2 linked regions of the Homo sapiens genome follow. The protein of the gene in region 1 interacts with the protein of each later gene in a pairwise test. Each region holds a gene or a part of one and is shown on either strand. Other genes may lie near its edges.

Evidence for each region. The genes of interacting proteins can lie anywhere in the genome.
Region 2: the proteins of SPANXN3 (region 1) and FAM228A interact in binary tests that used the Homo sapiens proteins (3 or more experiments, as listed by UniProt).

What each region holds. Positions count from the first base shown.
Region 1 is NC_000023.11:143,508,226-143,514,495, reverse strand, and holds the end of SPANXN3 (sperm protein associated with the nucleus on the X chromosome N3), read left to right. Parts: intron 1-5,333; coding exon 5,334-5,681; 3' UTR 5,682-5,761; downstream 5,762-6,270.
Region 2 is NC_000002.12:24,178,053-24,185,081, reverse strand, and holds part of FAM228A (protein FAM228A), read right to left. Parts: intron 1,798-7,029; coding exon 1,710-1,797; intron 1,588-1,709; coding exon 1,437-1,587; intron 1-1,436.

The sequences.
Region 1 (6,270 bases):
AGGTGGTTTGATAGCTTCCTGAGGGGAAGTTTGAGTGCAAAGGGAACATGCCTTAGTAATATATTTCAGATTGGCAGCCATGGCAGAAGAATGTATATAATTTTCTAAAAGCTGGAGTAGGGGCAGTAAGCAGCATGGAAATGGTTGTGCACATATGAAAGTACAGAAGGTTTTTTAAACTTGGACAAGACACTTTATCACTGAGATCAAACAATTTTTTCCTGAATGGCACCAGCCCGGGCAAGTGGGGTTCATTCCTTCTGGGTATATACAGGAAAAAATGAGCAATAACGATGGGGTTTTAAGGGCTGCCTGCCAGGCTGCCAAATTTGTTGAAAGGTTTCTCTCGGTTATGGCATCTTTAGACTTTCGGCACCCCTTGCAATGGATAATGGTGGCCTTTGGTGGTAGTTTATCCACCCCCAGCAGCTTATGTATAAGTTTGCCATTTCTTATGGGAGTTCCTTTTGTAGTTAGGAAACCCTGTTCCTGCCAGATGAAGGCATGAGACTGTAGGACATGGTATGCATATTTGGAATGGGTGTAAATGTTGACCCTCTTTCCCTTTGCTAGGGTGAGGGCCCTGGTTAGGGCAACTAGCTTAGGCTGTTGAGAGGTAGCATGGGGTGGCAGAGCATTGGATTCTAGGAGTTTATTTTCAGCAATGATGGAATAGCCAGCTGCTGGACATGGCTCCCTAAAAGAGCTTCCATTAACTAACCGTGTATGTGTTCCCTGCAAAGGGGCATGTGAAATGTGTTGGAAGGAGGAGGAGAGGGAGTCTAAGAGGTCCAGACAGGAGTGAGAGAGCCTAGAATCGGAAGTGTTTACAGGGAGGAGGGTGGCTGGGTTGAGAGTTTTATATCTCTGGAAGGGGATTAGAGGGCTACCTAGGAATAAGGCATGTACCTGTTATAAGCAGGATGGTAGGAGGGATAGAAGGGATTGATGGTTTATGAGGTCCTGTAGGTAATGGGAAGATGCAATAGTAATGTGTTGGTAAAGAGGGAGTTTCCGTGCCTCTAAGGCCAGCGATGTGGCCACAGCCAAGATTTTTAGTCAGAGTGACCAGCCTTGGTCACACAAAACAACAGAGTCCAGTTGTTTTGAGAGAAGTGCAGTGGCTTGTGTGGCGTTGCCGTATGTTTGGCAGAGTAGTCCAAGGGCAAGGCCCTGGTCAGAATGTACATACAAAGTAACGGGCTTGGTGAGGTTGGGCAGTCCCTGTGCCAGGGCCATTAAAAGGGCATTTTTAAGTTTTTAAGTGGGAGTTGATGGGGCAAGCTGGGTTTAGGGGTTTTAGGATGGGCCCATGTGAGGCCCTGTTTAGTGGCTTGGCCAGCAAGTCAAAATTGGGAACTGACAGCCAGAAGTAACCCACAAGGCCCGAGAAGGAGAGAAGGTACTTTTTTGTGTGAGGAAAGGGCATGTCCCAAATTAGCTCCTTTCATTGGGTTGGGATGGCTCGAGAATTAGGGGTTAGGACAAACCCAAGGTAAGTAACTTTGGTTTGGGCTACCTGAAATATTGTGGGCTAGGCCCAAACTTTGGTTTGGGCTACCTGAGATTTCCTCTATTATGGAGGAAGTTTAAAACCTAAGTGGTGTGTTGGATGGACAGGTTAAGGAAGGGGCTACAGAGAAGGAGTTTGACATGTTGCAGGAGGGTGCTAGCAGCAAGGGAAAGTTCACCTAGGTCCTTGATGAGGGCAAGTCTGAATAGGTGGGGGCTATCCTGGAACCCCTGTAAGAGTACAGTCCACTCTAGTTGGGTGCACATGTGAGTATTAGGACTTGACCAAGTTAAAGCAAAAAGACTTCTGTAAGCCGGATTTAAGGGAATGGTGAAATAGGCATCTTTCAGTTCCAATACAGAGGAGTGTGTAGTAGATTTAGGAATATGGGAGAGTAGAGCATATTGGTTGAGGACCACTAGATGTATTGGTACCACTGCCTGGTCAACAACTTGGAGATCCTGGACAAAGGGGTAAGTCCCGTCTGTCTTTTGGAAAGCCAGAATAGGGGTGTTCTGGGGAGAGTTAACAGGCTTGAGAATATGAGCTTGTTAAAGTTTACAAATAATAGGTTTGAGGCCCCTAAGCACGGCTGGATTAAGGGGATATTGAGACTGAAAAAAGAAAATGGAGGAGTTTTGAAAGGTTATTTTAACTGGGATGTGATGTGTGGCTATTGTGGGTTTAGAAACATTCCAAGCTTTAGAATTAACAGAAGGTAACAGGGTGGATAATGAGGATGAGTAGGGGGAGAGGGAAGCGTTTGGGTGTCGGAGTAAAATAAAAGGGGTAGAATTGTAGGAGCCGCATTGCATGGAGGCCTGGAATTTACTTAATATGTCCCACCCCAAGATAGGGGTAGGGGACTGAGGGATAACCAGGAAACAGTGGGTGAAGGGGGCTGTTGAATAGGTTGCATAATAAAGGACGAGTCTGTGCCTAGAGGGGATTTTATTGATTCTCACAATAGAGATCGAAGAACAGAAAAAGGGTCTAGAATATTCTGGTAAAACCGAGTAACTAGTTGTCGTATTGAGTATCCAATAGGAAAGACATGGACTTACTAGAGACTGACAGAATTACCCTGGGTTCCGAGGTGGTGATGGCAGTAGGGGTGGTGGACTCTAGGCCCCACCTGTCTTCAGGTACAGGTGGTGAAGCTAGATGAAGAGTTTCACTGAGCACAGTCTGACTTCCAGTGTTGCTTGATATCACAGATGGGGCAAGGCTTCCAGAGTGTCACGGGATTAGGCCAGGCTTTTGCTCAGTGTCCCTGTTGGATGCACTTATAACAGGCTCCTGGAGTTGACTGTTGCCAAGTTGAGGAATTCTGTATGCCTTGGGAACCCTGTTGAGTGGCAGCTATCAGCATTTGATATTTAGCCTGGCCCTTTTTTAGGTTTGGGTTTTTTAGTTCTTCCTCTCTAATCTTATAGACCTTAAAGGCCACTTTGATTAAGTCTCTTTGGAGGTTTGAGGGCCATCCTCCACTTTTTAAAGTTTTTTTTCAAATGTCTGGGGCTGACTGGGAGATAAAGTGTAAATGGAGGTAGATTTTGCCCTTAATGGTATTAGGGCTTAAGGTGGCATATTTAGTTGTGACCTTTGAAAAGGCGGGAGAGGAAAAGAGCAGGGGCGACTTTATTTATGCCAGCTAGAAGGCATGATATCATATGGCCTGGTTTCTGCCTGTCTACAGAAGTTGCCTGATAATTCCGATTGAGGTCAGTTCTGGGGACAGCTAGGGTCCCTACTGGGTTATGAGCAGCATCTTGTTGGTGGAGGGTGTTCTCATGGACCTGGGCACCCGTAAATATGTGTTCCCTGTCCTCCAGGGTGAGGGTAGAGGAGAGGATGACATATATGTCATGCCAGGTAAGGTCATAAGATTTAGGGAAGTACAGACATTCCTTGAGGAAGGAGGTAGGATCCATTGAAAAGGAGCAAAGTCTCTTTTCAGTATGGGAGAAGTCAGCTAGGGAACTTGAATTCAGATTATGCCTTCAGTCCTTGCAACCTCCTGCAAGGGAAAGACTTTGGAAGGCCTTTGGGCATGTGTCTGGTTTTCGGCAAAAGAGCGTTGGGCGTGAGACCTGGTTTGAGGTGGAGAAGGAAGGGGGATGGAGGGTGACAGTAAGGGGGTGGAGGAGCCGGATCCGAAGGAGAAGGTGGAGGGAATGGGAGAGGGCAGGAGCCAGACGAAGGGGTTTGTTGGCCAGGTTGAAATTCAGAGGAGGAAGGCTTGTCCCGAGGAGGAGGCATTTTGGGGGGTTTCTCCTTGAGGAGGAAGATTTGAAAAGGTGAACAAGATTGGCAGGAGAGTGAGTGAGGCATGAGCGGAGATAAGCAAAGCACTTCAGATCATTTACCATTGTGTTGGAGAAAGATTTTTAGATGATGTTGAATTTGAAAGTTGAATGTTTTGTTTTTTAGAAGAGGGGAGTGAATACTCTGGATGGGAGTGAATACTCTGGGGAAAGTGAGTACCCCAGAAGGGAGTGAATACCCCAGAGGGGAGTGAGTTCTCCAGAGGGAAGTGAATACCCCAGAGGAAAGTGAGTACTGGATTCCACCTGGGAGAAGGGACCTGGAGAGTTGGGACAGCCCCATAGCTATTCATGCTCCCCAGAGGACGGAGCGGCCAGAATGGCAAGTGTTCTGAGGCTGTCCCCTGAGAAGGGAGGCTGCAGTCACCTGGTGACTGGGGAGACCTCTCACCCAGCACTGGAATTTTTTTGGAGAACAAGCAGAAATAGAAAGGAATCCAGAAAGGAAGAATAGGGAGACTCACCCACGAATTGAAGCCCAGTGTTGGATGTGATGTCCAGCAATGGGGGTGATCCTGGTTGCAGCTGCTTGGGAAGGGGAAGGAAGGAAAAATAAGATGGAGAGTTTGATCAATATCTGGAGGTTAGTCCAGGGCTGGAGAAGATGAGAGAATAGGGGAAACAGGACTGGGAACAGACAGTCCACTCAGGATCTGGAAGTAGGCCCCGGTCTAGTTTGTGCTGCTTGCTGCTTTCTGCTTTCCAGGTTGCAAGAGAAAACTTACCCATTAGAACCCAATCACCGTCCTGGGTTTTGGCACCAAAGTGTTAGGTTTTGAAGGGAAGATGAGGGTGAAAGAAAGACAGACAGAGAGGGTGCATCTCAAACAACAACACAGGAATATTGCAGACACCTGTGGAAGTGGGGGACCAGCTTAATGCCAGAGCCCACTGCCGCTTATAGCCTGGGGTACTTACAGGTATGGGTGGGAGGGAGCTGGGCAGTATGGCTTGCTGCCCAGGAGGATATTGATAAGATGTTCTTATGATCAGGTGGTTTGGCCCTTTTTCCAGTGGAATATCATTGTGGTGTTCCTTTGCAGCTGCCTGGAAAGGGGAATGAAGGAAAAATAAGATGGAGAGTTTAATCAATATCTGGAGGTTAGCCCAGGGCTGGAGAAGATGAAAGAATAAGGGGAACAGGACTTATGATAGGGATGTTTCTTTAGTTGAGCCTTTGTCCACCTTGTGGTCAGGTGGTTAGGCAGGATGTTGCTCATGGCCTGAACCCCCATGGAATGTTTCACTTTGACCAAGGTCTGCAACATAGCAAAAACTTACAAAATCATGCAGTTTGGACTAACAGGTGACTCTACCCATGCTCCTCTTCTTCTTCTGCATAGATACCTACCCTATGATTTCACCTTGTTCTTCTCTGGCACACACCCCTTCCTCCACCTGCATTCCTTCTCATAAAGCCCCCCTTGCTATCTAGTCTCTATCCTATTCACCCAAAATAATGTCTTTCTGGCCTCTCCCTATTTTCTTACCAGATGCAAGAGGTACCAAACAGAGTCTTAGCCCCCGAACAGAGTTTGAAGAACACAAAAACATCAGAATATCCAATAATATTTGTGTATTACCTCAGGAAGGGTAAGAAAATAAATTCAAATCAACTGGAGAATGAACAGTCCCAAGAGAACTCCATCAATCCAATCCAAAAGGAGGAGGACGAAGGCGTAGACTTATCTGAAGGATCTTCAAATGAGGATGAAGACCTAGGCCCATGTGAAGGACCTTCAAAGGAGGACAAAGATCTAGACTCATCTGAAGGATCCTCACAGGAGGATGAAGACCTAGGCTTATCTGAAGGATCTTCACAGGACAGTGGGGAGGATTAGTCACACATGGAGAAACCAAATTGGACAAATCATCACCACTGATGGCGATGATTACAATAAAATCAAGTTTAAGGAGCTGATGACTGTGTTTATCTCTGCCTGTTGTCTGGTGTGGGGTGGGGAAGGGAAGGGAAGAGGTAGGCATTTGAGAAGGGAGGGATATGAGGTCCTGTAGGTTGGGAGACGGACCCACAGGTTGACAGTTAGCCAGACATTGCAAATAAGGACTGGCGGAGGACTGATTCCTCAGACAAATTTTCTTCTTAAAATTTTGTCTTACAGGAGAGGAAGAAAAGGACATGGTGTTTCTTGGAGCATGTGATTGTGTAGAAGGGTGTACAAAAAGATCTGTATTCGCTGGGCATGGTGGCTCATGCCTCTAATCCCAGCACTTTGGGAGGCTGAGACTGGCAGTCACCTGAGGTCAGGAGTTTGAGACCAGCATGGGCCAACATGGTGAACCCCTGTCTCTACTAAAAAATATATAAAAATTAGCCAGGCATGGTGTCAGGCACCTGTAATCCCAGCTACTTGAAGGCCAAGGCAGGAGAATCGCTTGAACCCAGGAGGTGGAAGTTGCAGTGAGCCG
Region 2 (7,029 bases), on another chromosome or scaffold:
GGAGGCCAAGGCAGGTGGATCACCTGAGGTCAAGAGATCAAGACCATCCTGGCCAACATGGTGAAACGCCATCTCTACTAAAGATACAAAAATCAGCTGGGTGTGGTGGCGCACACCTGTAGTCCCAGCTACTCAGGAGGCTGAGGCAGGAGAATCACTTGAACCCGGGAGGCAGAGGTTGCAGTGAGCCAAGATTGTGCCACTGTACTCCAGCCTGACGATAGAATGAGACTCCATCTCAAAAAAAAAAAAAAAGGCCATACAGCTTTTGGAAAAGACATCTTAAAATAATGTATAAAAAGCACTAGTTATAAATATTTGACTATATCAAAATTAAGAGATTGCACCACTGCATTCCAGCCTGGACGACAGAGCGAGACTCAGACTCAAAAATAAATAAATAAATAAATAACAAATGTGGATTGTGGAAACGAAAATACCAAACTGGATTGTTCATAATAGCCAAAATATGGAAACAACCCAAATGTCCACAACAGTGGATTGCTTAAATGATGGCATAGTCAAATATAATGGAATATAATCAGAAAACAGAAGTTAATACACTGGAGCTATATGCAACAACAGAAAGGAATCTGAAAAACATAATGGTGAGCAAAAGCAGTCACACAATGAACTGTACATGTACAAACCCTCAACAGATGAATTTTATGGTATGTAAGCTGTATCTTTTTTTTTTTTTTTTTGACAGTGTCTCACTCTGTTGCCCAGGCTGGAGTGCAGTGGCATGATCTCGACTCACTGCAACTTCTGCTTCCCGAGTTCAAGCGATTCTCCTGCCTCAGTCTCCCGAGTAGCTGGGATTATAGGCATCTGCCATGATGCCCAGCTAATTTTTGTATTTTTAGTAGAGATGGAGTTTCACCATGTTGGCCAGGCTAGTCTCAAACTCCTGACCTCAGGTGGTCCACCTGCCTCGGCCTCCCAAAGTGCTGGGATTACAGGTGTGAGCCACCGTGCCCGGCCTGTAAACTATATCTTAATAAAGATGTTTTTTAAAGAGTCAGTCATAAAAGAATAAATGCTTTCAGGTTCTGTTTATATGAAATTCAAAAATACGCAAGATAAACTATATTGTTTAAGGATACAAAGTTAGTTGATAACACCACAGGGAGAGCAAGGAGGTGAACACTTATAAAGTGAAGGGAGCTCTGGGGCAGGGAGAAGACTGTCTCGGGAGGGGGCAGGCTCCCTTTCTTGAAATGGCTGGTGATTCCACAGGACTGACTCAGGGACTCGGTAAGCTGTTTATGTTTTATTCTGTCCTCTACATATATTTCATAATACAAAGGTGATGATAATAATAATAAAACTATAAACTACTAAAAGACAAAAGTGTGACTAGTTACAAGAGCTTCAGTAGGAAATAAAGTAAGTTGCAAGTTAAACAAATATTTGTTTGTTCTGCTCATCTGTACCTGTATTTGTAAGTTTTACTCCTGGCTCTTGCAGAGGCTTTATGCCACTCTTTTGGAATCACACAGTGTGAAGTGAAAGTGAAGTAGGGCGAGCTGGCATGCAGCCTGGCCTTCTCTATTTCTTCAAGTTCTTTTATGGAATGTCGTTTTCCTACAGGAAGATAAAAAATCGAAATCAACACTCTTCAAGAACTCCAGTTGCTCTTGAAGGAGTGAGAAATCACTGGACAATTAGCAGTCTCAAAAAAATGAGGCCCAGTGATCACAAAGCACCTGTCTCACACTGAAGACCAGTTCTCCTCTCTTCATCCACCTCTTGCTGTCTTTGAAACAGAGGATCAACAAATGGTGGGACTGTAACCTACAAGAGAAATGAGACTCTTTGAGTACCAGAGTGCAGTCTGTATTAAGCTTTTAAAATGTGTCCCACATAAAGATGGGAACAATAGACCCTGAGGACTACAAGAGTGGGAAGGGCAGGAGGGGGCGAGGGTTGAAAAACGACCTATTCGGGACTCTGCTTACTACCAGGGTGACAGATTCAATTGCACCCCAACCTCAGCACCCCAACCTCGTACCCCAATATACCCGTGTAACAAACCTGTATGTGTACCCCCGAATCTAAAAGTTGAAATTTAAATAAATAAAATCTGACCTAAACATTCAAGTATGCCCTTACTGTATACCAAAGCAGCTGAGAAGAAAGGCCCCAGAATGTGCCAATCTACACCTCAGATGAGGATGTCGTACAGAGCCTTAAATGGCTGAACTGAGGGAGGGAGGGCCGCCCAGATAGAAGAGACGCACTTCTGTTAAGCGCTCTACTGTGTCATTGCATCAGCCAGTAAATATTTGTGTTGCCATTGTGTGCCACATCCAGGCTAGATCCTGTCTTCAAGGATCTCCTGGTCTAGACAGCCTAGTCATCCAGTGACAATCCAGTCCTGAGAGGGGCCCTCTCAGGATCCTGTAGGAGCAGGGGCAGTGCTAACTTAGCCTGGGAGGACGCATGCCTCCTAGGGAAGCTGACAACTGGTCCGTAAGGGCCTGTGAGAACAGAGGGTCAGGTGACCAGAGCTATGAGTTTGTGTCAAAGGGTAGGGACATACAGAAGTATTTTTTCTTCCCGCTCCTGATAAGCCTTAGACAGAGGGACTATTTTTCCCCTCCATTTCCCCCACAGCACTCATCCCAGTGCTGGACTGAAGTGCTAGGTAAACAATTACTGAATAAACTAGGCAACATAATATGTACTGCCTCCAGCACCCCAGATGCTGACATTCTACCCAGAACCAGAAGAATCTGTTCATCTTCATATGACTGACCTGGCTTGGTTTTCTGGGAGAAGCAAAAGAAACCACTTCCATCTTCAGAGCCATACATATTTTTTAAAAAATTAACAGTCATATCAGGTGGCTACTTCTGCTGCATGGGAGCGAAAAACTGAAACCTACATTTCTCCATTTTAACTCCTGTATTGGCAGTTTAAAAATCTGAAGACTCATTATAACCTCAAGTATTAGCTCTCCCGGGCAGCCTGTGCTGACATCCTTCCTGTATCTCCAGTAGAAAGGAGTGTTCCCTCCCACGTCCCATAATCCCTGTGCTGACTTCTGTGACACTCGCCACGCTCCACTGCACAAGCTGTCCACACCTCTCTCTCTCCTTCTTGTGCTTCAAGTTTGCTGAATGTGAGTAAATGAATGAACAAATGATCACACGTATCCATGCCTTGTGCACAGTGTAAATTCCACAGGAGTCTAAATTACTTTGAGTTCCTATTCTAAAACTCAAAGGAAATGCTTTTGTAGATTTTTTTTTAATAAATAGACAATAACTACAAGACTTCTAAAATGACTAGGTTTTCCCCCACTCCAGAGCTCCTAAGAATAAAAAACCAAAGAAACCTGCTCTACCTTTCCATAATTTGGTTTCTTTTTCTTCATATAAAAGGATCGTAGGCCGGGCACAGTGGCTCACACCTGTGATCCCAGCACTTTGGGAAGCCAAGGCAGGTAAATCACCTGAGGTCAGGAGCTCAAGACCAGCCTGACCAACATGGCGAAACCCCATCTCTACTAAAAATACAAACAATTAGCCAGGCATGGTGGCACATGCCTGTAATCCCAGCTACCTGGCAGGCTAAGGCAGGAGAACTGCTTGAACCCCGGAGGCAGAAGTTGCAGTAAGCCAAGATCACACCATTGTACTCCAGCTTGGGCAACAAGAGCGAAACTCTGTCTCAAAGAAAAATTTAAAAAAATTTAAAAAGGGATTGTATACTTCAGGATTATAATGGTCTTCACATATAATTTCCTTCAGATATAAAATATACTTAAGGGAAAAATCACTAGATACAAACTGTTTTGCAAGATTCATATTATAAAAGCCAAATACTGCATTTCATTTTTATATAAAAGCATAGCTTCAAAGGGTTGGAAGAAACTGCTGAAGTAGTTTGGACTGCAATGAGACTCCACCACCTTCTGGGAGAAGTAATCATCTAGCTTTAGTCTAAAGTCATCCATGGGCCTTTCAGAACTTTCTGCTCCATGAGGCAGGTACTTTTTTTGGTAATTTTAACCTCAAGAAAGTCCGTCCTTAGGTTGAGTTTAAATCTGCCTTGTAACTTGCAGGTACAGACACTAGTTCTACACATCTAATTCATCGGCTAATGTCGGCCTTTAAAATACTTAAAAGGTTCATTCCCCCTCGTGTCATTTCCTTGGGCCAAATACCCCACCTCTTTCCAGTTTTCTTCCTATAAAGTGGTGTCAAGACTCAACTCTTTTCTAAAGGTTTTGCAACTGATGAGGGTCCCTTCAACAGTGTGACATCAGGAATGACAGGTTAAGGACAGGATAGACCAAGACTCTGATGCTTCCCACTCTAAGCACAGCCTCTCTTGCCTGAGAGATGTATGTTTTCTTGGAATCCAGCTCATATGGTTGATTCACAACGACTTTACTGACATTTAAAATTACTTGGACTTCAACACATGCCATTTCTAAGATCTTCCTCCCTATACCCATGAAATCACATTTCTGGACACAAATATAAGACTTTGCACTTTGGAGATCTGGATTCAATCTTGAGCTCTGCCCCTTAAGAGTGTGTAGGAAAAAGTATTTAAGGTAAATATTCAGAAATTGTGCTCAGTAAATATACTTAAATGTTCTAATATTTCAGCTAACCTACTCTAGGGTCTCACTGTCACTCAGGATGGACTGCAGTGACACGATCATGGCTCACTGCAACCTCCGCCTCCCAGGCTCAAGTGATCCTCCCACCTCAACCTCCCAAGTAGCTGGGACTACAAGTGCACAGAACCACACCTGGGCTTTTTTTTTTTTTGTACAGACGGGTTTTTGCCATGTTGCCCAGGCTGGTCTTGAACTCCTGGACTCAAGCAATCCATCCACCTCAGCCTCCCAAAGTGCTGGGATTACAGGGGTGACCCACTGCACCCAGCCACTACTCTAGATATCTACTAGATATGTGGGGGTAAGAAAGATCCAGTAGTGCACACCTAAAGCTAACAGATTTGTATTTGATACTGCAAATAGAGAGACCCAAATTCTGAGAGCTGACCTCAAAATAAAAAAAAATCTCTAAATTAAGAAACCAAATTTTTGTAAAGCCAAACTGTAGAACAGAGTATAGAAACTGTTAGTCCTAATACCTACTGGTTGGCTAAGTCAGCCATGCAATACCATTCTCCTCTGCCCACTTCCTACTAGAGAGATGAGAAAGCCACAGTGGCTTTCCAGGCCCTGCTTATGGCTAGGACTTGCTTCATGACCCAGTCCTGGCCAATGAGACCTAAGGGAAAGTTGGCTAGGGGCCTCTGGGGACTCTTTTTGCTTCCTGCAAAGGAGTAGGGTAAGAGAAGAGGCCCCTGGCACCATTCCTTACCCCTTCCTCCTGCCCTGAATGAAGACCTAATGTCTGGAGCTATAAGCAACCATCAGGCAAATGTGAGAATGATGGGGATAAACTGAAAATACTAAGGATAGCAGAACAGAATAGGAAAAAACCTGACATTGTTATGCTGTCAGAACCCACCACGAGACCACCTACCTCTTAATTTCTTGTGAAGTAAATGCCCTTATGGTTTAAGCCACAGTAACTCCATTAACGTCTACATAAAAATCATTCCTGATAAATCTAGTTCCAAATCAACACTCCTATCCCCTCCAACCTCAGGCTTAAGAATGCAATACGTGTGTTACAATTCAATGAACTCATCTTAAATATAAAAATAAGCTGGAAACTATTTGTATAACCAGTGAAATTGTTAGACCAACTCTTCAAATTATACTCTATTTGAAAAATAAAACATCAGTACCATTTTATGTCTGTGCTGTAAATAATATTCAACATTCTCGTTTCATTTTAAGCTCTTTATATGAAATTACTTTTTCCATAATTCTCTGCTGAAGAGGCTCTGCAACATTTTCAACCCATTTTTTATGTAACATCTCTTTTCTTCTTTCCTTAAAAGTATCCACATGCTGAAAATACATATCCAATCTCTAGTGAAGTGATACAAAAAAGGAAAATAAATTATAAAGAAATGTTTCATTTACTATCATTCGAGTAAGGGGGAAAAAAAAATTTGTTCTCTCTACTAAGCTCTCAGCCACATTCGGGTTGCAAAGTCCCAGTATAAGATAACTGAAGCACAGAATAAAGTGCAGTAAGAGAAGCTGGGAACACAGAGCAGAAGAACTCATATAAACTTCTAAACCATAACTGTGCCTTCAGATTTAACCACATCTAACTCATGAATCAGATTAAGCTATTCCTAACTCATGAAACTCTTGTTTCTTTTTCAGGATTTCCAAGCATTCCCTGGTCACCCACTCTGTGTCTAGCCTTCACCATCAGGAAAGTCTGGGACAAAACTGGTAGAGTAGAAAGCGCACTAGACTTTGACACCTCTCTCTGGCCTGTGAAAGAGAGGTAATCCCATCTACCTCTTTGGATGCTTAAATGGGAATTTATGTGCACTTTCTTTACACATTGTAAATCACAATTCAAATGTCAAAGTTTTATTCTTTTTTGTTTAAAAGACAGGGTCTCACTCTGTCACCCAGGCTGGAGTATAGTGGCATGATCACAGTTCACTACAGCCCCAACCTCCTGAGCTCAAGCAATCCTCCTGCCTCAGCCTCCTGAGTAGCTGGGACTACAGGCGTGTGCCACCATGTCTGGCTAATTTTTTAATTTTTTTGTAGTGACAGGGCCTCACTATGTTGCCCAGGCTGGTCTCAAACTCTCAAACTCCTGGTTTCAAGCAATACTCTTGCTTCAGCCTCCCAAAGTATTATTATAACTCCGTCTCTCTCATTGAAATTAAATGCCCCTTAAGCTAATTTCGTAGTGACTATCAGTTACTGATTGGTCATAACCCTTAAAAGCTTATTTTGTTTCTAGTGGTTTTACTGCAATGTGGGAACATATGAGAAAGAGGCAAGTGTGAGTAGGAAAGAATTTCTATTCGGTACCAGGACGAAGAGAAGGAGCAATTGGAACAACTTCTCAGATCCCTTCAGGACAGATCCAAGTGGGATCAGGGACCTTTTAGTGA